Linked DNA regions of Homo sapiens: region 2 is linked to region 1. The links come from fine-mapping of genetic effects on gene expression. A gene starts in region 1. The other region holds a variant in brackets. All regions are shown on one strand. Distances are from middle to middle.

Region 1 (12,548 bases):
AGAATGGGGGTCAGGCAGATAAGAAGACGAGGGGTGGGGAGCAGCTCTTCATTTTAATAGAGGGCAAAAAGAGCCAAACCTCAACAGGAGAGCACAGGCCTCATTCAATGAGTAGGAGTGACTAGTTCAGTGCAGCCCAAGTACATGATAAGCCATGGAAAGCAATCAATCCTTTGCGTGGTACTCCCTTTGGGCCTTTAAAATCCAATCACTTTACATACATCACGATCTAGTCTACTTGTTTTCACTGCCATGTCTCACTTTGAGCTTCCCCTCATCCACTCTCCACCAGTTCAGAGGCTCTCCCTTTTGCTCATCATCTACCAGCCATATAGAGTGTTAGATGAGAAGGCTGCAGATTTGCTATCTGAGTAAAAATGCTAGTGGCAGAGACCATGCAAAATAGGTGGTGATCGCCTGCCATTTCCCTGTCAACTTGGCAATGACAACAGCCCTTAAAACATAAGAAGAAAGCCAGCCACCCATGGTGCTGTGAACCCCTCATCTGGCCTTCAGACTTATAAAAGAGGAATTCTATATCCTACCAGCAAAACACACAAAACAAAGGAACAAAAAACTACCAAGTATTGATATTCTTGTTGACCCAAGAGCAATTTCTAACAATTCATGGGCATGAGGGAAGGTCCAAGGAAAAGGAATGTGGACAGGATTAGAGAAAAAAATCAAATGAACGGAACCTTTATCCTCAGGGAACCCTTACAAAGATAAGGGTTGAGAGAGACACAGAGCGTTCTTAGTTTTCCTGGGATAAAAGAGGCCCTTAGTACTCCCAGGAATCAAGGTACTACCGTGACACACGGTGCCCTTCCTCCTCATCTCAGTCGCTGAAGGAGGCCTCCGGCTGTGCAGGCAGGACCTCAGCCCCTCTTACTCACCACCAGGAGTTGGCGTCTGTCAGAAGCTGAGCCCAGCTGGACAGCAGAGCAGCCGTGAACAGCAGCAGCAGGCTGGGCATGGTCGGCCTCAGCCCTCCCCAGTGCCCTGGGACTGACAGTTTCCAGAGTAGGGTTCCCTGGAGAAAACAGAAATGGAGAGTCAGTGTGGAAACTCAGCGGATAAGGGCAGACCAGGAGCCGGGGTGAGGCGGAGAAAGTTGCACTGATGCTTACGTGCTGCGTGTTCCCCACAAAGAAGCTCGGCCTCTTTCCAGCCTCCGCCTCCCACTGCTCATCTTCCCACCCTAGGACTTCTGTCTCTTACCCCAAACTGTGGGAACCCTGCACAGGACCTAATTTCCAAAGAAATAATGAGCTGAGAAACCACAAAGAGAAATGAAAACAAGTAATTTCAAGAGCGGAGCTTGCGGCGTTCCTCCGTTCGGCAGCCGGGAGGCCACTTCGGCTGTTGTAAAGCATACCTGTCCTTGCTGCAGAACATCCAAAGAAATGGGGCCCATCCTATCCACTCCCCCACGTGCCTACCTCTCATTCCAGCCCAGAGACTTATTTCTCTGACCCTCAGGCTCTCCTTTGTAGGATTAAAACATTTTGGTGAATTGGATTTACCTGCACCCAGGGAGGAGTCTCCCCTCTCCATCTGCGCCCTTCTCACCCTCAGCGGGTTTCCTAAGTCCCAACCCCTGCGTACAGATCAAGGACTTTTCACTTTCTCAAGGCAGCTTCTCTGAGAAATGTACAAGCCACGCCGCGAACCGCCCGCCCGGAAAGCTCTGGCGGCTGAGGTGGTGCCTCCCTAGGCGGCCCCTGCCCCTCCCGGCACCGTGGTCCTCGAGGGCGGCACCGAGTACCTTGCCCAGCAGCTGCACCGGGGACACTGCCGACGCCAGGCGGCAGCTCTGGCATCAAATGCCTGAGCTGAGGACGCATCTTCCAGATGCCACAGCCCTTCCCTGCTGGCTCCCGGGCCTCCCGCCTCTTGGCCTCCTGCCTGCTGTAACCCACGCCTGTTCCTCTATCCGCCCCCGAGAGCCCCTGTCCCCAGGCCCTGGGACCCGCAGCAGGTCAGTGCTGCTAGAGCGAGCCTGCGCCTCGGGACACACGGCCCCTGCGGCTCCCCCGCGGTCCTCCGGGGCCCCCGTCTGGGCGTGACCCGCGCCCCCAGCGGCCTCCCCGGGGCCCCGGACCTGACGAGCGCAGCCCCGCGCGCCCCGGCTCACTGCGCCACTCTCGCGCGTCGGCGTCCCCAGGCTCCCCGGGAGGGGGCGGCGGGTGCTTCGGGTCATCAGCCCGGGAAGTATTTTTGTCCTGGGGCCGCCAGGAGAGGACAGTGGCCCGAGCAGGGTCCAGGAGAGCTGGGACACAGCCCTTCCCCAAGCCCCCTTTTGATTTTCCTTCTCGAAGCCTCGGCTGGGGCGGGGGCACCAACAGGCAGGTGTGTGGGGCCGGCAGGGGGCAGATCAAAGAAGACACTTGCTCCTTCCCCTTTGTCATGCAGAGCCAGCTCGGAAGTGAGCCGGCCCCCAGCCCGGGACTAACAGCTTCCACGCCCGACTCCCCTCAGACCCCCCCTCCTCTGGAGGATGCCCCTCCCCCTCTCCTCTCCCCCCATAAATCCTCCTCGTCCCCCGGGGCAGAAGGTCTGTGAATGCACCGGCTGGAACCACGAGAGATGGAGCAGAGATAGGGCTGGCACCAGGAGCTAATGGTTTTATGGAGGGGAGGCGACCAGGTCCCGAGTAGGGAGGACGAGAGAAAAGCTTCAAAGCGTTTCCTTGTCCAAATATCCTTAACTCCACCTACCAGTCCTTCCCGGGGTTGCAGAGCTAGGGCCGCCCGTGCCCTCCTGCTTCTCCAGCCTCCTCCCCGCGGCCCCGAAGCCTCCTGCCCAGCCTATGCCCAGCCCGTGCCCAGCCCACCACCCTGCCGCCCGCAACACCTACTCTCCCTGGGGACTTTGATCCTCACACATTTCCACCACCAGATAGCGGAGTTCTTCCTCCCCGCCTGTGACACTTGTCCCTCACACCAGTGCCTCTCACCTCTGTCACCCGTCCATCAGGCTCCAGTGGAATCTCTCTGGTCCTGCAGTTCCTAGGTTCAAACTAGGCTACATTGGGGGCCACCGTTTCCGAGCCAAAGACAGGCCTGGGTGCCTGCTAATGGTCACTGTGGCTGTGACTGCCCCCAGGACAGGCTGACACGGTAACTAGAGCCAGACTTCCCAGGAGCTGCTAATCCCGCCCTCAGTGCCTTATAAACATATATGGAGACAAGAATCACTCCCGCAGCTGTTTCTACTCCATCCCCCGCCCCGGGCTTTCCACGAGGCGGCTCTCAGCCCATTAAAAATGTTTTTTTTTTTAAAAATTGCCCCCCAAAATGGCTCTAACATGTGCAGTGGCTTCTTTCTCTGACTTCCAGATGTGTGGTACCTGAAACTGAACTCCCCCATACACACATATGCACGCGCGCGTGCACACACACACACACAACACACACACCAGCCCCCTCAGGACGCTCTCTGTCCTGGCAGACAGATGCGAGCCAATTCTTGAGTGGCCATAGAACTGAAGCCAGGCAGCTGTTTGCCCTCTCTTACATTCTTGTGCTGGGGTGGGCTGGGGTGGGAGGAGAAAGGACCCCTTAGAAAGGTAAATGCTGGCGACTGGTTTCATCAGCATGGGCAGAATGGAAATTTCTTGCCTCAACCCGACTGGGAAGGCAGGAAGCTGTATGGGGGCTGACGGTTTTGTGTTAATGAGCAGGTCACATTGGGACCCCTGTTTGTGGGTCACTAGTGAGATTTATAGCAGGATTCAACCAGGGGAGGCTCTCCTTGTGTAGGAAGAAAGATCTGGTAAATGCCCAACAGGCAGGAAAAGGCCTTTGCAATAACTACAGATTTCCCCAGGGTCTAAAAAGATTCCCCTTCCTAAGAGGCAAGTGTCAATTCAAACATACCAAACACAGTAGTTAAGAATGCGGGGCTCTTCGGGGGGCCAAGGTGGGCAGATCACCTGAGGTCAGGAGTTCGAGACCAGCCCGGCCAACATGGTGAAAGCTCACCTGTAATAAAAAAGTATAAAAATTAGCCAGATGTGGTGGCACATGCCTGCAGTCGCAGCTACTTGGGAGGCTGAGGCAGGAGAATCGCTTGAACCTGGGAGGTGGAGGTTGCAGTGAGCCAAGATAGCACAACTGCACTCCAGCCGGGTGACAGAGCAAGACTCCATCTCAAAAAAAAAAAAAAGTGGGAGTCAGGGTCTCTATTCTTTAGTAGTAGTGACTAGGAGGCTGTGGGGAGGGAAAGATGCAAAATTCCCAATCAGGATCCTTCCAGAAGCCAGAATGAGCTGGTCAGACATCTGCTCTGTTCCTCCTCTTCATTCATCCATGCAGCCATTCAATACATTCATTAATCAAATGAATTACACCCTGGGTGCCTAATATGTGCCAGTTACTGCTCTAAGTGCCAGAGACATGGCAGTGAACAAACAAATGTATCATAAGTTAGGTCCAGTGAATACTATGAGGAAAATAAAGAGGGGACCAGAATCAAGAATGGGAAGGGGTGGTAGCATACTTGATGTAGGGTTCTTGGGAAGACTACTCTCTGAAATATCTGTGCCCCCAAAACCACTGTGTAGGCAGGATGGTGGGAGGGGATGTAACGATGCTACACCTCCAAGACCCCCTCTAGAGCACATCCAAGGTCCCTGCTGAGATGGCACTGTCCCACTTCACCATCACAACCAAAGAGGTGCGTGTTGGAAGACAGGAACTCCAAGATCTCCTCCTTTTTCTGCTAGGACTCAGTCACTCACTTTCATTTCCTTAAGGGGCCATGTCCATCCAGCCTAGAGTTAAGAGACCAAAAAGAGAGACCGGGACAGGTAAAGCTGAGACCCCAAGCAACTCTGTGCTTTCCACCATACTTCAGAGCAGTGCCTGAAACAACATCTCTGCCCCACAGGATGAGGGGTTGATTTCAGGTCATTAGCCATTCACACAAACCCACTGATATCTAGAACTGACTTCCCCAGCACCCAGGGACTCAAGCATCTCAAGACTCCTGCAGGAAATGGAGCCACCTCCCACATCTGCCCCTCTCCTCAGACAGGCACCGTCACATCCAGAAACCTGTCCAGAAATAGCCACGAGCCTAGGTGGGGACCTCTTCAAGGGTGCTGAGCAGGCCTCCTTTGTCACTGAGGCCACACCTTCCAAGATGCCTTCCCTGACCATCCCTCCCAGAGAAGGCCCCCATCGCCATTATTCTACTTCTAGCTTCTTGCATGTTTTAGCCGCAGCATTTAATGTGCCATGGAATAGTGTGGCGTGCTCATCTGTTGTGGTTTTGTTTCTTTCCCTCATATGCTCTGGAAACGGTCTTATTTACCATTTTTCTCCCCAGTGGATAGGATAGTACACAGGGGTATGTGGGAGTTGCTAGAAAAATATTTGTTGACTGAAAGAAAAGAAAAGCACTCTTACTTGGTCACCCAGTGGGGAGCTATAGAATGTGTAATTTAAAAATACATTTGGCGGCCGGGCGCAGTGGCTCACAACTGTAACCCCAGCACTTTGGGAGGCCGAGGCGGGCAGATCATGAGGTCAGGAGATCGAGACCATCCTGGCTAACACGGTGAAACCCCGTCTCTACTGAAAATACAAAAAAATTAGCCCAGTGTGGTGGCGGGCGCCTGTAGTCCCAGCTACTCAGGAGGCTGAGGCAGGAGAATGGCGTGAACCTGGGAGGCGGAGCGTGCAGTGGGTCAAGATCGTGCCACTGCACTCCAGCCTGGGCGATAGAGTGAGACTCCGTCTGAAAAAAAAAAAAATACACTTGGCCTGGAGTAGTGGCTCACGCCTGTAATCCCAGCACTTTGCGAGGCCGAGGCAGGTGGATTACCCGAGGTCAGGAGTTCGAGACCAGCCTGATCAACATGGAGAAACCCTGTCTCTACTAAAAATACAAAATTAGCCAGGCACGGTGGCACATACCTGTAATCCCAGCTACTCGGGAGGCTGAGGCAGGAGAATTGCTTGAACTCGGGAGGTGGAGGTTGCAGTGAGCTGAGACTGCGCCATTGCACTCCAGCCTGGGCAACAAGAGTGAAACTCTGTCTCAAAAAAAAAAAAATACACTTGTGGCCAGGTGCAGTAGCTCACACCTATAATCCCAGCACTTTGAGAGGCTGAGGTGGGAGGCTTGCTTGAGCCCAGGAGTTCAAGACCAGCCTAGGCAACACAGTGAGACCCTGTCTCTACAAAAAAATCTAAAGTTAGCCGAGCATGGTGGTGCCTGGGAGGCTGAGGCCAGAGGATCGCTTGAGCCCAGGAGTTCAAGGCTGTAGTGAGTCGTGATTGTGCTATTGCACTTCAGCGTGGGTGACAGATTGAGACCCTGCCTCAAAAAAAAAAAAAAAAAGAGAGAGAAAAAAAACAGGCAGGGTGCGGTGGCTCATGCCTGTAATCCTAGCGCTTCGGGAGGCTGAGGCAGGTGGATCACTTGAGGTCAGGAGTTTGAGACCAGCCTGGCCAACATGGCAACACCTATCTCTACTAAAAATACAAAAATTAGCTGGGCGTGGTGATGGGTGCCTGTAATTCCAGATACTTGGGAGGCTGAGGCAGGAGAATCGCTTGAACCTGGGAAGTGGAGCTTGCAGTGAGCCGAGATTGCACCACTGCACTCCAGCCTGTGTGACAAAGTGAGACTCCGTCTCAAAAAAAAGAGAAAAAACAAAAGAATAAAAGTACATTTGCAATTTTGTTAACATTCCTGGCATAACAGGGTAAACCATCTTAGCAGTCTTTGGAAAGGAAATGCTTCCCTTTGTGAACTCCTGGCTGCATTGCTGTTGAAGGAGGGGCCTCAGACTGGATGATTTCCATGGGACAGGGGAGGGGCAGGTGGAGGAGGAGCAGGCCTTGCTAGCTGGAGTCCTGTGGCTTCTCTCCCTTTGGCCACTCATTTCTCGTACTGTAGAGAAAGACTGTTTATGGACCTCAGCACAATAGACAAATACCTCCTAAAATGTACATCAGGTTCACTCATTTCCTTCCCAATTTCCAGGTGAGTACTCACCCTTCTGGCATCTGAACACCAGAGTAGTTCTTCGTGGTCTCACTCACAAGTGCACATAGACACAATACCAGTTTTCCCTAAAATACTAATTTTACATCATAATATTCCCCTATTTGAAAACGTATAGTGGTTCCCAGTTCTTTATTTCCAATGTGGCCTCATCTTACCTCTCATTGTTTTCCTGAATTTCCCAACATGAAGTCTCCTTTTCCAATGTCCTTCTACTCCTAGAACAAACCCCACTTTTCCCCCAAGACCTCATTCTGATCCTCTTCCCAAGGAAGCATTCTCCTCTGCTCTGCAGCAATCCAGATATTAAACTACTTTCACATCCAGGCTCAAGATTCACTCCCTCCATAAAACTGTGCTTGATTAACCCCACCCCATGAGAATCTCATTCTCATGGGTTGAGACCGAAGAGGTCTCAACCTCTTCGGCCCTTATGAATCCATGTATCTGGTCTGCACCTCCCTACCCCACTTATGCTGCCTTGGGCTGTTTCTCAGGTGAAGTATATACTTCTTACTTCTCTAGTAGATCAAATGCTTCCTAAAGGTTCAAACTTACCTTTTCTACTTTCTCTGCGAGCCCCTTTGCGCCCAGTATGGTTTTACTCAGCAGTAACAAATGTCTTTTGATTGATAACCAGTGACAATAGCTAGTATTAATCAACATTTATTGAGCACCTCTTAGTGCACTGCACTAAATGTTTCACATCTATTTTTCTCATTTAATCTCTGCCAACATTTGTGGCATATGCCATTATTATTCTCACTTTGAAAACAGGGAAACTAAAATTAAGTACTTGTTCATACAGCAATTGAATGGTTGACCCTGGCTTGGAATCCAGATCTTTCTACTCTTCCCCAAATACAGGTCCTCCCTGTCACTAGAGCATAACACCTTCTCTGCTTTCTCTTTTTTTTTTTTTTTTTTTTTTTTGAGACAGAGTCTCACTTTGTTGCCTAGGCAAGTGGCATGATCTCAGCTCACTGCAACCTCCGCCTCCCGATTCAAGTGATGCTTGTGCCTCAGCCTCCCGAGTAGCTGGGATTACAGGTGCCTGCCACCACGACCGGCTAATTTTTGCATTTTTAGTAGAGATGGGTTTCATCATGTTGGCCAGGCTGGTCTTGAACTCCTGACCTCAGGTGATCCACCTGCCTCGGCCTCCCAAAGTGCTGGGATTACAGGCGTGAGCCGCGGTACCCAGCCTCTTTCTTTTCTTCGTTGCACCATTGCCCTGTTACTACGGCTGCGAATAGTGTGAAAGTCAGAAAACAACATTCTGATATGCAGGAGATATCACAAAAAGCAAGGTTTACAAAACATGCAAAGTTACTAGTATTAATACACACACTTAGATACACACACAGCCTTGTGGGCGGAAAGAACTAGACTTCTCCCCTAGCCAAAATGATATGTGGGTTGAGAACAGGCCAGGCTGCTTAAAGCTGGAGGAATTAAAACATAATAGTTTTAAAGAGTTGGTACTTAGTTTTACTTTGGGATGGAAAAGACAAACCAGGTCAAGAGCTATGGGTCTGGAAGGGTGGATCCTGGTTTGGTGTGAGGGGCTCATGGAAGATGCAGAGGTGAGGTACAGAGTGCACGTGAAGAAACATAAGGTTTGGAGAGAACGTGGAGGGACATTTTAGATTGGCCTTAACAGTGAAACTCACCAAGAAACTATGTCCTCAGCAAGAAAGGCTCTTACTTCGATAGCACAAAACTGTCTTGCCTTTCAGTAGATATAGCGATCGAGGAGCTCTGTTCAAAGCTTAGATTTGACCATGTGACTTCTTTGCTTAAAACCCTTCAAAGAGGCCGGGCGCGGTGGCTCAAGCCTGTAATCCCAGCACTTTGGGAGGCCGAGGCGGGCGGATCACGAGGTCAGGAGATGGAGACCATCCTGGCTAACACGGTGAAACCTCATCTCTACTAAAAATACAAAAAATTAGCTGGGTGTGGTGGTGGGCGCCTGTAGTCCCAGCTACTCGGGAGGCTGAGGCAGGAGAATGGTGTGAACCTGGGAGACGGAGCTTGTAGTGAGCCGAGACTGTGCCACTGCAGTCCGGCCTGGGCTAAAGAGCGAGACTCCGTCTCAAAAAAAAAAAAAAAAAAAAAAAAAACAACAAAAAACCCTTCAAAGGTTTCCTATCTCCTAAAGGATGAGTCATAACTCCTCACCCCATTACATGACGCCTTCCAGAATCTGGCCCCGCCAACCTTTCCATCCTCTTTAGGATTTCATGCTGTGCTTTAGAACCCCAAACTCCTGATACCTCCTTACCCAAACCCATCCTGTTTCTCCCCGCTGTGCCTTGCCGACTTCTGGGAATGGTTTCTCCTCTCTCTGTGCAGAGCAAGCTCCTTTGTCATTGAGGCCACACCTTCCAAGAGGCCTTCTCTAACCATCTCTGCCAAAGAAGGCCCCCAGCAGCATCATTCTATTTCTAGCTTCTCACATGTTTTAGCCACAGCATTTAATGTGACATGGAATAGTGTGGCATGCTCATCTGTTGTGCTTTTGTTTCTGTCCCTCATATGCTCTGGAAACGGTCTTATTTACCATTTTCTCCCCAGTGGATAGGATAGTACACAGGGGTATGTGGGAGTTGCTAGAAAAATATTTGTTGACTGAAAGAAAAGAAAAGCCCTCCTCTGGCTCTCAGGGAAAGAGGAAGCAGGCCACGAAGGCCAGCCTCTCATGAAGACAAGGAGAGTCCCTTCGACTTCCATACAACTTGGTCCATTTGCTGTGAGGAAGCTGCTTGACTGTACCTCCCCTTATCTGAGAATCCACTGCTAATTGAGATTTTGGAGATTCCTGGTCCCAGACATAACTCTCTGTCTTTTCCTCAAAGACATAAGTAACATTCAGCTTCTAAGAGTAAAGGCTGGCACTGCTTAATAAGATAATGTAAAAATGTGTAAGACCTTGGGGAGTGCCCCAAGGTGCATTGGTCTAGCTGGGGAAAACAGAAAACCTGCCCAGAAAAGTACACTATAAGAAGTGTCATCTACTAAAAATACAAAAAATTAGCCGGGCGTGGTGGCGGGCGCCTGTAGTCCCAGCGACTCAGGAGGCTGAAGCAGGAGAATGGCGTGAACCCGGGAAGCGGAGCTTGCAGTGAGCCGAGATCACGCCACTGCACTCCAGCCTGGGCGACAGAGCGAGACTCCGTCTCAAAAAAAAAAAAAAAAAAAAAGAAGTGTCAGAAGAGCCTAAGGGAGCAGCTGTACTCAGGATGTGGGATTTGAGTAGGGCCTTGAAGAATATGAGGGCTTTTAACAGGAGGAAAACAGCAGAAAGGATTTCACATGAAGATGTGGTTTGGTCAAAGAGAAAATTTCAAGGTGCTTTTCGAAGAAGAGGAGAGATAGTGCAATGAAGGAGGACTTCAATAATTTCCACTGTTTTCAGAATTGCTTGTTCGTGAAATTTATGTAGTCCCTCCAAAATCTAATATGGGGCCAGGCATGGTGGCTCACATCTGTAATCCCAGCACTTTGGGAGGCCGGGATGGGAGGATCACTCGAGGCCAGGAGTTTGAGACCAGCCTGGCCGACATAGTGAGGCCTCATCTCTACCAAAAAAAAAAAAAAAAATAGCTGGATATGGTGGCACATGTCTGTAATCCTAGCTACTTAGGAGGCTGAAGCGGGAGGATCACAGGAGGTCAAGGCTGCAGTGAGCTATGATTGTACCACTGCACTCCAGCCTGGATGACAGAGGTCTCTAAAAATAATAAATGTTAAATTAACTTTTTAAAAAATCTGATTTGGTATTCCCATTGATAATTCAGCATCAATTACCCAGGAAAACTCCCATCATGACATGCTTCCAGTTTCTGGGGGCAACACTGCAGGAATGGGGTCAAAGACATAGGGGACCAGTCACCCTGGATACTGTCCTTTTGATCATAAAATGTGGGTTGAGTGAATCTTCCTAGAGAGCCAAATATAGAAGTTAAAATGCTGATTGATTACACACCTTCATATCAATCATGCGTGTTCTCTGTCTTCCAATTCTCTTCCTGTATCCAGGCCTGAAATCTTGGTATCCTTTGTGACTCCTCCCTCTTCTTTGCCTTCCACGTCAAATCAATTGCCAAGGTCTCTTGATTGTATCTCTATAGTGTTTTTTGAATATATTCCCTACTCAACATTCCTATTGTCATACTATGAGCTACTACAAGAGCCTGCTAATTGACCTCTTTTTCTCTAACAAATTGCAATATCTTATGTCCCATTCTTATCTCTTGAAAGGATAAATGAATTTCCCCATGGCAGTTCTCTAACTTTCAAAATAACAGGGTGGGGCGCGGTGGCTCACACCTGTAATGCCAGCACTTTGGGAGGCTGAGGCGGGCAGATTACGAGGTCAAGAGATCAAGACTATCCTGGCCAACATGGTGAAACCTGTCTCTACCAATAATAGAAAAATTAGCCAGGGGTGGTGGCGCATGCCTGTAGTCCCAGCTACTTGGGAGGCTGAGGCAGGAGAATCGCTTGAACCCGGGAGGTGGAGGTTGCAGTGAGCCAAGGTCGTGCCATTGCACCCCAGCCTGGCCACAGAGCGAGACTCCGTCTAAAAAAAAAAAAAAAAAATTTGCTGGGTGTGGTGGCGGGTGCCTGTAGTCCCAGCTACTTGGGAGCCTGAGGCAGGAGAATCACTTGAACCCAAGAGGCGGAGGTTGCAGTAAGCCAAGGTCGCGCCATTGCACTCCAGCCTGTGTGACAAACTGAGACTCCATGTCAAAAAAAAAAAACAACAACAAAAGAATAGCAGCACTCTTGATAGCCTCAGACCAGAAGCAACAATATCCATCAACAATAGAATGGACAAAACAATTAACTGTGATATATTACAACAAAGAATTATTATGCAGGAAGGAAAACAAACTACAAGTTACATGCAACCACATGCATGGATCTTCTGAACATAATATTGAGAAGAAGCAAGTCACAAGAAAGTATATGAACTATGGTTCCATTCATAGCAAAACTATCTTGTTTGGGGACCCACACATTGGTGGTTAAGCCATAAAGAAAAGCAAGCAAGGAAATGATGACATCAGGGAGTGGTTTCCAAGGGAGGGGGCTGTGATGAGGAAGGGGCTCGAGGAAGTTCCTGGGATACCAGCAATGTTCTATTTTCCAACCTGGTGATGGATATGTGGCAGTTCACACTACAGCAGTTTATTAAGTTGTGCATGTATTATGCTGTATGCAATTTTCTGCATTATATTAGACAACAAAAATATTTAAAAATAAAAAAGTCATATTAATACCTAATGGCTTGAAGGTCTTTATATATTATATTTTCTTGGCGGAAAGTACAATTATGGTCTCATGGGGCATGTGACCTTTTTTATTTTTATTTTTTGACTTAAAAAAGAAGATCCTCATACTCAAAAAGAAACATGTTGGGAAATTTAGGTAGAGACAACCACGTGGGATGACTATTTGAGGGCAGGTGGGGCTGGTGGGAGGGAGTTCTGTGCAAACCAATGGGTATTGCTCTCGCAGTG
Region 2 (12,548 bases), 96 kb after region 1:
CTTCACTCACCAGCCCCCGCTCCCAAGGGTGATATTCTAGTTCTCAATTTATATACACAATCTCTTTAAAAGTTTAATTGCTTTGATTGCAGGTCTCATACCCCCAAACAAGATTTCTAAGAAAATTCAGTAATTCTTTACTCAAAATTTCTCAGGAGAAACTTCTCAACAAATACTGGTGAAATCTATAACCTTAGGGAGGAGTCTATGACAGGCACTCAACTTTGCCCCAACCTCCCAGAGCAAGACAAGCCTCCTGTCATCTGGGGGATATTCACCGGTAAGAAAAATGGGTGCGGGGCCACTGGCCTCTTGCCCATGTCCATCCACTGGTTAAGTTCAGGAAGTGTCACCAGTGAAGGCACGACACCAGCAAGAGCCCAGGAGCTCAGGGCTGCTCTGTGGCTGCGCACCTTCGGTTCTGGGCTTGACCTCTTTAAGAGGAGCCACACTGAGAGCAGCAAACAGGATGACCACGAGCTGGCCTCAGAAAAGCTTTGTTACTTTAGATTTTTCATAACATTATATTTTTATGTTACAGTTTTTGCTTCCACAACAGGACTCAGAGCAAATCCAACAATTAATCATTTGCAGATAACTCTAAAGTGACTTTTGGGGGCTAAAGTGTGTAAACCAAGAACTTTTGAGTTCACTGCCTTTTCTAAGCCAAGGCCAGCTATCGTTTCCCAGGCCTCAGTAAATCCACTGTATAAATCAGACAGGAGTAACCTTTTAGGAGTTAGCATTTCTGGGGCTCTAGGAGGCTACAGAGGAGACTGTATACCCCTTTAAGAAAGGTTGGGGTGCCTCCCCCTAGAACTCAGGCACCAGCCCCAAAGTCACCCAAAGCTGGAGACAGAGGCTTGTCATAATCTCCCAGATGCCAGCGAACCACAGAGGCCCCTGGCAGGCCCAAGCCCAAAGCCAGGAGCACAACCTGAGCCTCCAGCTTGACCACAAACCCTGCCTCTGAGACCACGGCTGGTGAAACAGTAACTCTGTGAAAGCAGCAGGCCCAGAGCACCCCCCACCCCTCTGGTGGGGACACTCCAGGCCTGTCCACAGCAGAGGGATTCCCAAACCTGAAAGAGCTCGAGCTGTTCAGAGTGACAGGATGTTAGAGCTGGAAGGGGCCCCTGGGACCAACTAACCCAATGCTCTCACTTTATAGAAAAGACAAGCAAGGCTGGGCAAGGTGGCTCATGTCTATAATCCCAGCACTTTGGGAGGCTGAGGCAGGAGAATCACTTAAGCCCAGGAATTCAAGACCAGCCTGGGCAACATAGTGAAACCCAATTTATACAAAAAATTAAAAAAGAACAAAATTAGCCAGGCATGGTGGTGCACGGCTCCTACAATCCCAGCCACTGGGGAGACTGAGGTGAGAGGATCACTTGAGCCCAGGAGGTCGAGGCTGCAGTGAGCCATTATCATACCACTGCACTCTAGCCTGAGCAGCAGAGAAAGACCCTGTTAAAAAAAAAAAAAAAAAAAAAAAAAAGGAAAGAAAAGAAAATATTACTGAGATCCAGAGAGAAGCTACCGTGTGCACCCCAACCCACTCAAACACCCTCCCCAGCAAAACCTCAAGAAAAGACAGTGATGCAAAGGACAGGACATCCAGGTGGGTTGGTTTCTTAGGGGAGCTGGAGGTTTGGGGTGCCAAAGACCTTAGAGAATGCCCCTGTCCCTTTAAGGGCTGCACTGCTGCCAGCACCCTACGTGCTTACTCAAAGGGGATCCGACAGCCCGGCAGCCAGGCTGGGTAATGATTACAGTCAGCACAGCCCCCTGAGGACCTTAAATGACAGCTTGAGTCTAGGCTTCCTGTGATCTCCGTGCACAGTATCTGGAAGGGTTAGGGGAGAGCATCTTCCCCCAGTACCGAACCAGGTTCCAACTCACCCAGGAGGAAAGAGATGGGAAGAAAGCCACATGGGTGGAGAAGCAGCGGGGAGAGAGACCAACTTTAGAAAGCCTAGAAGAGGACTCATGCAGCACAAAGAGACCACACTGCAACCACAGGGGCGAAGAAGTCAGGAAATGCTGCCGCAGCAGCCAGCCCAGTGGCGAGACCGCAAGCCAGTGGCTCAAACTGGGATGGAGGGGGCGGAGGTTTAAATTTAGCCAGGTAAACAGAGCCGGGCCAGGGGTGGAGAGGGCCTGGTAGGGGCTGTGCAGTCACCTGCTCTCCAGAGTTGGGGCATTTCTCGCTGAAGGGAACAGTCCAGCCAGAACTGTACCAAACAGCGGATCCGTTTTCAGGGTTCCTCCAGCATGCTGCTTGGGGGAGCACACAGGCTGCGCCCCAGAGATGGACAGAAGGTTAGTTTTACTTTAAAGGGTGGCTCAGATTTAAAATGAGCATGTCTTTTCATCTTGATGGCAATATCGATGCACAATCCCTCTGCTGGATGTTTCTGGACTCGTAGATAACGGTGAAGACGCTCAACAGAAACCAGCCAAGGCTGCCCGTAAGTGGAGCTCCCACATGCTCTCATTGCCCAGAGGGCTTTTACATCTACTGCTGTTGTGTGTCTTCAGAGACCTGATGGAGTTACCCAACAACCAGTAACTACCACCACGACCACACACTCTGAGGACTGCATCCAGGACTAGCGCTGGAGCAAAGATGGGCTCTGAAGACCTGGTTAGAAGATGAAGGAGATAAATGGCAGGCGGTTTGAAAAGGAGCCAGAGAGAAAAAGCTCTCGCTGACACGAGAGCTTTTTTGGACTGACTGGTTTCTATTTCAGAGAAGACAAGGACTATCACCACACGTAAAAACTTCCCTCCATGCTAGAGAAGCCAGGCTGCGGCAATCCAGAAAGCAGCAGAACCATCCTAGAATTAAAAATTAGAACAGACCAGCCTAGTCCTCTGCCTTTCTTGACCTTGAAGAAGAGCAAACAAAAAATCTTTCAGCTGCCCCTAGAGTCAGAGGGTGAAATACACAAGGGAAGAAGAATTCCAGATTTTTTCTTTTCGCAGCATATGGCTCCCAGCAATTTTGGCAATATCCCTTTAACTTATGCTTTTTGGACAGAAAAAATTTTAGAAAAGGGTAGTTTCAAGTCAATAAGAAACCCCTGGTGATATTACAATCACCAAATGAACTAAAGAGGGGACCGGTTTCAGATACCTTGGAGAAACACACAGACACACACGCTCAATCACCTATTCATATTCAAATACATAAGATATCAGAGCCTGGGAAAGTATGAAATCCATGGGTGGAAAAAGACCAGCCAGCTCCTCCGAGCCTGGCTCCTGCTCCCCTGGCAGGCAGATCCCACAGAGTGTCACACGCCCTTGGCCTGACTGTCTTTAAGAAGAGAAAGAAAGGGAAGGGGAGATGTCTCTCCTGACTGCCTTTGGGTATTGACCCATCCATTGTCACTTTAGGTTCCTTTACTCCCTTCACGTCCTGCCCTGTTGTCCGCGCCACCTGCATCTGTTAGTAAAAAGCCCTGGTTTTAATTGTGACCCTTCCCTTGGACTGCTGGACTTGTCATCACCATGAAGACGCCAGCTCCATCACTCCTCTCACAAGGGTGCCTAAGAGGTCTCTTTCAGCACTGCCATCCTTCCAAGGAGACACACCTCCTCCTTCTTGCTATTTATAACCACGAATCTTGTGTGTCAAAGCGAGAACAGACACTATTTTGAGATGGAGGAAAACCACCCCTCAGTCTTCCACCTCTAATAGGTCGGTGTGTTTGCCAGGACCTGTGTGTGTGAGCCTAGGCAGGGGTGCGGCTGCAAGCTCCAGGTCTGGCATCCGCTCGTCTGTGCCTGAGATGGGGAGTCTTGCCTTTGCGTAAGTGAATTCTGCCGGTTAATCGGATGGCAGGAGAGGCTGGGTGCAGGAAAGGGTCCTTAGGCCTTCTGAGGGCGTGCCCGCTGCTGCCTGGGCTCTCCGTTGCCTTAGGGGCCAGCCACAGGAGGGGGCTCCCTAGGCTTCCCCCGTGTGCCTGGACGAGTGCTGGTGGCTGGCTAGCGGCTGCCCCTGCCCTGCCGAGCCAGGGTTTTCGGCTCCACACTGACGGCACGGGCACAGACGTCCCATCGCAGCTCTGGTGACTGGGCACATTCCGGGGCCCCTGGAGCAGTCTGGGGGGTTGATTCCACGATCCCTAGTTTTTCTCCTCCAGGTACCAGGCTGAACCTCTGCCCAGGGGAGTAGCAACTGGAAGCTGTTGCCAACGTGGCCAGGTGGCAAAAGCAGTGAAGAAGGGCCCGGGTGAAGTGGAGGGGACACCGGACACACACACACCCCTTCAGCTGAGTAACCAACGCAGGGCCGGGGCCACCTCAGTTTCCCTCCCTGTAAAACAGGGCCGGGCAGGCTCCCCGCAAACCGAACTGCCTCTCCCAGCGGTCTGCAGCAAATACCCGGGGGTTCGGCTCCGACTGGAGCGCGGGCTACGCGTCCACCGAGGCTCCAAGAAAGTGAAGGAGGAGGTCTCGTCCCGCCTCTCCCACGGCGGGGACGTGGAGCGCCGGAGCGACCGGAGAAGCACAAAGCCGAGCGGCGCTCGGGCTCTACCTGCGCGGTCCGGGCAGAAACGCAGGCTCCCACCCGCGTCCGGCGGGTAAAGTAACCCAGATGGGGTCCTCGATGCCGGCGCAGACCTCGGCGGAGGGTCGGGGCTGGGCCCGACCAGACCCGGGAGAGTGAGCGCGAAGCTCAGAGGCCGCCCCGCCTGCGCCGCCGACCCCGGAGCCTCCTATGCCTGCCCGCGCGAGGGCCCGGCGGTCCCCAGCTTTGTTCGCCGCCCCGGCCCGGGGCGACTCCCTTCCCCCGACCTGACCCCGGCCCGCCCCGACCCGACGCCCGCGGCGCGCAGACCCACCCGGCGGACACCCAGCGCGGCCGCGGGGCCGGGAAGGCGGAGGAGCCGCGCGAGGTTCGGCAGCCGGGGCGGCGGCGGCGGCGGCGGGGCCGTCCCCGGGGGCGAGGGCCGGCGCTTACCTGCATGTCCCGCCGCGTGTCAGGCCCGCGGGCTCCGGGCGCCGCTCGGCCCGGCCCGGCTCTTCCTGCGCCCGGCTGCGCTGGGTCGGCGGGCGAGGCGCGGCCCGCGGGGGCGCAGGGGGCGGCCGGCGGGGCCCGGGGCAGACCCTGCCCGCTCCTCTCAGCGCGCGGGCCGCTCGGGCCGCCGCCTCCGACTCTTCATCCGCGGCCGGGGCGCGGGGCTGGCGGCGCGGGCGGGCGTGCTCGGCTCCCGGGGTCCCGCCGAGGCGTCTCGGGCCCCCCCCCCGATGCTGGGGCAGCCTCCGAGGTGTCCACCGGAGCCCGGCCAGGCAGCCCCGGCGCTCGGAGTCTGCGCGCCCTCCTGCCGCCCGGAGGGCTCCCTGCTCCGCGCCGGGGACCCCCGAACTCAGCGGGCGGGGACGGTCGGGGGCGCGCAGCCTGCGGCCGATCCGGAGGGAGGCCCTGGGCCCGAGGCGCGGGCTCGGGAGGCCGCCGTCGATCTCGCCGGGCTGCGCGCCCTGCTCCGGAGCGCGGGACCCGGGGAAGTTTCGGCCCAAGTTGGCTGCGGGGCGGGTGGCGGCCGCGGCTCGGAGTGCAGGGCCCGGCGCTGGGCGAGTGGATCCTGGGGGCGCCGCCGCCTCCGCCCCGCCTCCCGCGCCTCCTCCCCGCCCCCGACAGCCGCGCCGGCCCCGGCTCGCTCCTGCCCACCAGCCGGGCCGCGACACCCTCCCGAGGGCTCCTCCCAGGCGCTGGGACCGCGACCTCCGCACCTGCCTCCCGCCCGGCTCCCTCGGCCCCTAAGCAGAGCGGCCCGGGGGCCTCGCCGCGGGGGTGCGGACGGGGAGTCTCCGCCGCCCGGCCCCCTTCTCCCGGCGCCGCACGCCTGCTGCCCCCTTCTCCTGGAACTCGACCCGATCCTCCGAAGAAACCGCGGCTCTTACCCCGGCCAGCAGCCCCCTCGGGGCGCCCAAGGAGCCCGTACCCGCGCCCCGCGATCCTGGCACGAGCGCCCACCTCGGCGTCTGCGGGGCCCGAGGCTCTGAGAGGGGAAGAGAGTTATGTCCTCCGCTTTCTTGCTACGCGTCCTCCTTTGAATCCCCCAAGGAAGTAGAGTGACCCGGGAACTACTTTGCCGCTTCGCAAACCCAGGTCATCCCCCTCGCAGTCCTGGGCCCTTCCCTACAGAGCCCAGCTCAGAAAGATCCCTGGGTTTGGGAAAAATGAGGCAGAAAGGTTTCAAGGAGCAAACGTGTTCTCTCAATACTTTCGTCATGGATATAGGACTAAATAATTCTCCTGATGTTTTATGGAGAAAATGAGGCACAGGAAAGTCTGACGACCAACCCATAGTCACTGCAGGGGCTAATAGCTTGAGAAGGTCACTAGAGTCCAGGGCTCGGCCTTAGTTCAGATCCAAGTTTAAA[T/C]GCTTTTCTGGAAGTCCCATGTCCTTTTGTAGGTAACCTCATAGCACCTCTGGGTGAGCTGCCCAAGAGGGTGTCCAAGGAGGTGAAGTGGGTGAGCTAAGGTCCCAGTGGAGGCAGGAGCTGCTGGTCCCTGCTCCAGACCCAGGTAACAGGGACCAACCGAGAGCAGCCAGTAGGATCCCAGGCCTGCCCTCCAGCCCCTTTGCTTTTACATTCTGAAAAACCCAGTCTCTTCCCTGAGGAGGAGGTCGCCCTGCTAAAGAAATTGCCTTCGAATGCAGTACAGTGAGGGGAGGGAAAATACAATAGTAATAATCAAAGGCTTTGCCTTTTTAAAATTAGTAACCAAACAAGGTGACAGCCTCCCCCTTTCAGTGGGGGAAGGGGCAGCAGGGAGGGTCAGGGAATGGATGGGACCAGGAACCCACCACACTGGGCAGGCAATAAGGAGCTATTGTCCTCTGGATTTTACAACAGGTAAGAGCTGTTGTAGCAAATACCCCACTAATTAGAGGGCAAGGTTTCCTTGGAACTGTGCTGGCTTGGGCCGGAGGTGCACCGTGACTTTTCTCACCTCAGGTGCACTGTGACTTTTCTCACCTCGGAGTGAATGAATGGGGTTTATGAGACCAGGTCCAGCAACCATAAATGCATGGCCTATAATTGTTGTGGGGAGCCTGCCTGCTGCTGGAGGGAAGCTAGTTCAAGGCTTTATCTTGGGGACAGATGATATGAGGAGAGTTGGCCTAAAGCAAGCAAAAAAGCTTTGAATCCGCTTTGCCAAATTTCAAGCAGGCTCAGTTTCTCTCTTCCTCAGAATAAAACATCAGTTCTAGTGTTAGGGTCTTTTTTTTTTTTTTTTTTTTTTGAGACAGAGTTTTGCTCTTGTTGACCAGGCCGGAGTGTGGTGGCACAATCTCGTCTCACTGCAACCTCCTTCTCCCGGGTTCAACTGATTCTCCTGCCTCAACCTCCCAAGCAGCTGGGATTACAGGTGTGCGCCACCGTAGTAGAGACGGGGTTTCACCATGTTGGCCAGGCTGATCTCGAACTCCTGACCTCAAGCGATTCACCTGCCTCGGCCTCCCAAAGTGCTGGGATTACAGGCGTGAGCCACTGTGCCCGGCCATGGAGTTAGGGTCTTCGTGGGAGGTCGGGGGGAAGTCTTGTTCCCCAGACCCTGATTACTCCAGAATGCAACATGGGAGAAACTGAAGATTCGCTTCATTTGTTGAGCCCTAAACACCCAGAGATGAATGAGACCAGTTCCCACCTTCAGGAAGTTTACAGTCTGAAGAATGAGGTGTGGAGAGGCCGACCTCTAATTTGAAGCCTAGAAGAAGCAACAAGGGATGACTTTGCTTGGCCCTGAGCTGACAGTCTAGGATGAGAGCAAGTGACAGACGACAGCAACCCCAGCTGAATGCTCTGTAAGTCCCCTACCCCCACCATCTCTGTCCAAGATGAGTCAAAACTTGTGGCACAGGGAGGGAAGCTGCAGTGCCCCCGGGAAAGGAGCTTGTGGCTGAGTAGCTGGGAAAACGTTTGAATGAGGAGACAGCAGAGACGTGGGCCAGATTCCCCAAGGGAAGTGGTAAGCACCCCATAGCTTGAGTCACTGGACTGCTGGGGCAGCTACCTCCAGCTCTGAAGGCAGGCACTGATGGGAATGCAGACAAATCTCACCCATGTTTTGTCTGTGACTGTTGGGTGGGGTCTCTTGCCTTCTCTGCCAAACAAGGCATATTCCAATTTGGCATTTGTGATTAAAAAGAAAGGACACAAGAAAGTAAGGAAGGAAATAGAAGAAAAAAAGAGAAAAGAAAGAATATTTGGCCCTATGCAAATATGTAATGATCACTGCTCTTTTTATTGAGGACACTGCTCCCCACTCCTGGTCATGCCCTCGCAGGCCCCCATCCACACTCAGAGGTCCCTTCCCAGCCAGAAAGTCTAACGAAAACCCTATCAGAACTAGTCAGAGAGGAGGCTGAGACTCCTGCGTGGCTGGGATCTCAGTGGCTTTCCTGCCAGGTGCATGTGGGGCTGAGTGCTGGTCCTCAGGCATGCTCTTCGGTGGACTGCTCCGTTTCACCACCCCCAGTGCCAGGGGGAGGAGCTTCAGAACACTGCTGTCCAGCCGCCTCTGGGTGCAGGAAGAAAGTACCCCTGTTGCAGGGCAACCCTCTACTCCATCCCAGTCTGCTTCTCTGGCACCTTTCAAAGGTGTTCTTTAAGATGCACAGAAGGCCTGGCGCGGTGGCTCACGCCTGCGATCCCAGCACTTTGGGAGGCCGAGGCGGGCGGATCATGAGGTCAGGAGATTGAGACCATCCTGCCTAACACGGTGAAACCCCGTCTCTAGTAAAAAGTATAAAAAATTAGCCGGGCGTGGTGGAGGGCACCTGTAGTCCCAGCTACTCGGGAGGCTGAGGCGGGAAAATGGTGTGAACCCGAGAGGCGGAGGTTGCAGTGAGCCGAGATCGGGCCACTGCACTCCAGCCTGGGCGACAGAGCCAGACTCCGTCTCAAAAAAAAAAAAAAAAAAAAGGACGCACAGAAAATTTCTTGGGGGAACTGATGAGCCTTCAAAGCCCAGAACAAGAGCGAGAGGCAGAGCTAATAATAACCTTTTATCCCGACAGCTATTTCACAGGCACTTGACCCCATTGCCTGTGGTACTGTGTTGTTCAGTGCTCAGTTTCTGCTCGTTGTCTGGACGTAACATAGAAGTCACGGTTTTGCTAAGAAAGAGGGCTTTTTAAAAACTGGCAGAATCTGACCCAAATATCCAGACACTATCCATAGATTACCGCCACAGACTCACAATAGCCAAGACAATTTGGGACAGCTGGATCGGGGGATTTCTAAGTGCTGAAGGCAGCAGGGTTGGTAAGAAGGAAGCTGCTATCATGAGTTCTAATCTGGCTCTGCAGTGGACCTGTAGAGGAAAAAGTTCATACCAGGATGTCAGCAGCATAAAGGAATTTTTATAAAAGCAGAAGACCGTTCTTAATACCTCATATGTGCATAGAGCTTACCAGTTTATAAACTGCTTTTCTTTTTTTTTTTTTTTTTTTTTTTTGAGACAGAGTCTTACTCTGTCACCCAGGCTGGAGTGCCGTGGCATGATCATGGCTGACTGCAGCCTCAACCTCCCATGCTCAAGCGATCCTCCCACCTCAGCCTCCTGAGTAGCTGGGACTACAGGCACATGCCACCATAGCTGGCTAATGTTCATATTTTTTGTAGAGACAGGGTTTTGCTATGTTTCCCAGGCTGGTCTCAAACCCCTGAGCTCAAGCGATTCTCTCACTTCGACCTCCCAAAGTGCTGGGATTACAGGTGTGCACCACTGTGAGTGGCTGATATGGTTTGGCTGTGTCCCAACCAAATTTCGTCTTGAATTCGCACGTGTTGTGGGAGGGACCCGGTGGGAGGTAATTAAATCATGGGGCAGGTCTTTCCGGTGCTGTTCTCCTGATAGTAAGTCCCATGAGATCTGATGGTTATTATAAGGGGAAGTTTTTCGGCACAAGCTCTCTTTTTGCCTGCTGCCAACCACGAAATATGTGACTTTGCTCCTCTGTGCCTTCTGCCATGACAGTGAGGCCTCCCTAGCCATGTGGAAGCGTAAGTCCAATTAAACCTCTTTCTTTTGTAAATTGCCCAGGCTCAGGTATGTCTTTATCAGCAGTGTGAAAACGGACAAATACAGTGGCCCTCTAGTTTTATCTTAATGAAGATTCATCAGAATGATGACAGCCTTACTCATCTCACTTGGAAGGCTCTCCTCTAGCCACCTCTCCCCAAAAGAGAAGTTAGTGCCCCTCCAGGGAGAAGACAGCATGGTTGCTGAGCAGGGCGCCAGGTCAGTCCTCAGAGGTGAACTTCAGACTCAACACCTGTGTGATCTTGAGCAAGACACTCATCTCTCTAAGCCTCGGTTTTCTCATCTAAAAGGTAGCAGTGGTAAGATCACCTATCTATGGCAATGTGAGAAGTCGAAGAACACACATAAAGAATCCAAGTACTGGCTGGGCATGGTGGTTCACGCCTGTAATCCCAGCACTTTGGGAGGCTGAGGCGGGCAGATCACTTGACCTCAGGAGTTCCAGAACAACCTAGGCAACATGGCAAAACCCTGACTCTACAAAAAACACAAAAATTAGGTGGGTGTTTTGGTGTGCACCTGTAGTCCCAGCTGCTCAGGAGGGTGAGGCAAGCGGATTACTTGAGCTCGGGAGGTCGAGGCTGCAGCGAGCCGTGATTATACACCACTGCACTCCAGCAGCCTGGGCGATAGAGTGAGACCCTGTCTAAAACAGACAGAAAAAAGGAATCCAGTACTATTTATTACACGTAGTATATGTTCAATCAGTATTAATAATTGCATTATTATGATTGAATAGACGTGACCTCATTTTCTGTTGTCCACTCTAATGGGATGCTCTATCCTTGAACTCCTCCCAAGAGAAGACAGAATCCTAAATTGTCCCTTTAATGAATTACTGCTTTACTAATACCTAGAATGAAGCAGTTGAAGGTGTCACTAAAAACTGGCAAAATCTGGAGACTCTAGCCAATTGCAATGGGAAGAGTTTCATCATTTCATCAGTACCACTCGTCAAGGTCCCATAAAGAGAAAATGGGGGCCGGGTGCGGTGGCTCACGCCTGTAATCCCAGCACTTTGAGAAACTGAGGTGGGAGGATTGCTTGAGGCCAGGAGTTCGAGACCAGCCTGGGCAACAAAGTGAGACCCCCCCCCCCCATCTCTTAAAAACAAGCAAACAAACAAAAGAATGGCGAGCAAATGGGAAAAACTAATGAATGTGATCCTGTTAATGAACTACTCAAATGCTTGACCAAAAAACAAGGCACTCTTTGGAATTATGATTGACAAGAAATACCATTTTCCCTTTGGAGACTCTAACATCCCCATATGCCTCCTTTTTCCCTCATCTCAACTTTGACTGAAGCCCTTTAATGCTTTCTATACTGAGGGACATTTCAGAGGAAACGGAGACAGGGTGCCTGCCCTCAAGGAGCTTTGTTCTTATAGTGGGGCCAGGACACAAGCAAATGGAAATGAAATGAACATCAGATGCCCAGGCCACATGCGTCTGGTGCCAGAGCCCCTGGCGGCTCAAGGCCATCAGGACTAAGGGTGGTGGCCGAGCTTCTCCTTCCCTCTCTCTTACTAAGGAGCTGGTTTCCCCTGGGGAAGGTCACTCCCCTTCTTGGATCCTCACCTGTAAAAAGCATGGGTCTAAATACTCCCCAAGAGTAAACAAAGCTATGATGGAGTCAAAGGGGAAATGGAGAAAGATGGAGGTTTGAGAGGAAGACAGTGAATCTGACTCCAAGACACTTACTTTTAAGGTCAAGGGGGCATTCAAGTGTTGACGGCAAGAAACAGGGAATGTAAGGAGCGTTAGAGGTCAGGGTGGCTGGAGGTGCAGTTTCAAAAAGTGAACTGATAAATACGAAGGCCAGAGGGCAAGGCGAGAGAGATGGCGGAGTGAGCAACCTGTGTAGACAGGGCCCACAAGTTTAGGAAGAGGAGAGCGCAGACTGGAGGGTGCAGCAGGGAGCCCTCGGGTCGAGTGATGTGTGCTCCACAATAAGAGAGCCACAGTAAGACACGCACAAAGGCAGAGAGAGGCAAAGCCAGGAGCATTGGCCGTTCCTGTTGGTAGAGGGGGCTGGGAGCAAGGAAGAGAGGGCGGCAGGAACTCAGCAGGGGGCTGGCATTCCAGAGCGAGAGCAGCCCCTTCTTCCTTCCTCTCCAGAGACTGTTAGGACGACAGAAAATGCAGATACCGAAGGAGAGGCCAGCCAGGAAAGGGAGAAAGGATGGCCACAAGCTCCCACAAGGACACTAAAGTGGCCTCTCCAGCTGTCAGGGGAGGCTGACCCCTCCCACGTGGCTGCCCAGGGTGGGAGGCACACCTGTGCCAGGTGACCAGAGGGTGTCTCAAAGTTGTTCACTCACAGACAGCTCCTGGAGGGGCTTCCTAGTGCAGTGAGGGTTGAGTCCCTGGTTTATCGGAATCTCCTGGGAAAGAATGTTTAAAGTCCAGTTTCCAAGGCTGTGCCTCTGGTCTGTGACTTCTAAGGCTCCACAGGTCATTCTGATCCTGAACTC

The links.
Region 2: its variant is fine-mapped to the expression of WNT5B in aorta (GTEx, PIP above 0.99). The same link has a PIP of 0.9 or more in tibial artery.

Annotation. Positions count from the first base shown.
Region 1 is chr12:1,619,783-1,632,330 of GRCh38, reverse strand. WNT5B (Wnt family member 5B) reads right to left here and starts at 3,100. Exons shown (of 5, transcript NM_032642.3): 1 at 2,960-3,100; 2 at 897-1,033. The coding sequence starts at 976. RefSeq lists an enhancer at 1,373-1,472 and silencers at 1,654-1,948, 1,903-1,962, 1,993-2,182.
Region 2 is chr12:1,523,378-1,535,925 of GRCh38, reverse strand. It overlaps LOC107984507 (a long non-coding RNA gene), which reads left to right and starts at 3,734. Exons shown (of 2, transcript NR_160736.1): 1 at 3,734-3,820; 2 at 4,155-8,203. RefSeq lists enhancers at 1,869-2,018, 2,169-2,368 and silencers at 5,382-5,491, 5,582-5,831. The variant T/C (reference allele first, on the strand shown) is at 6,400.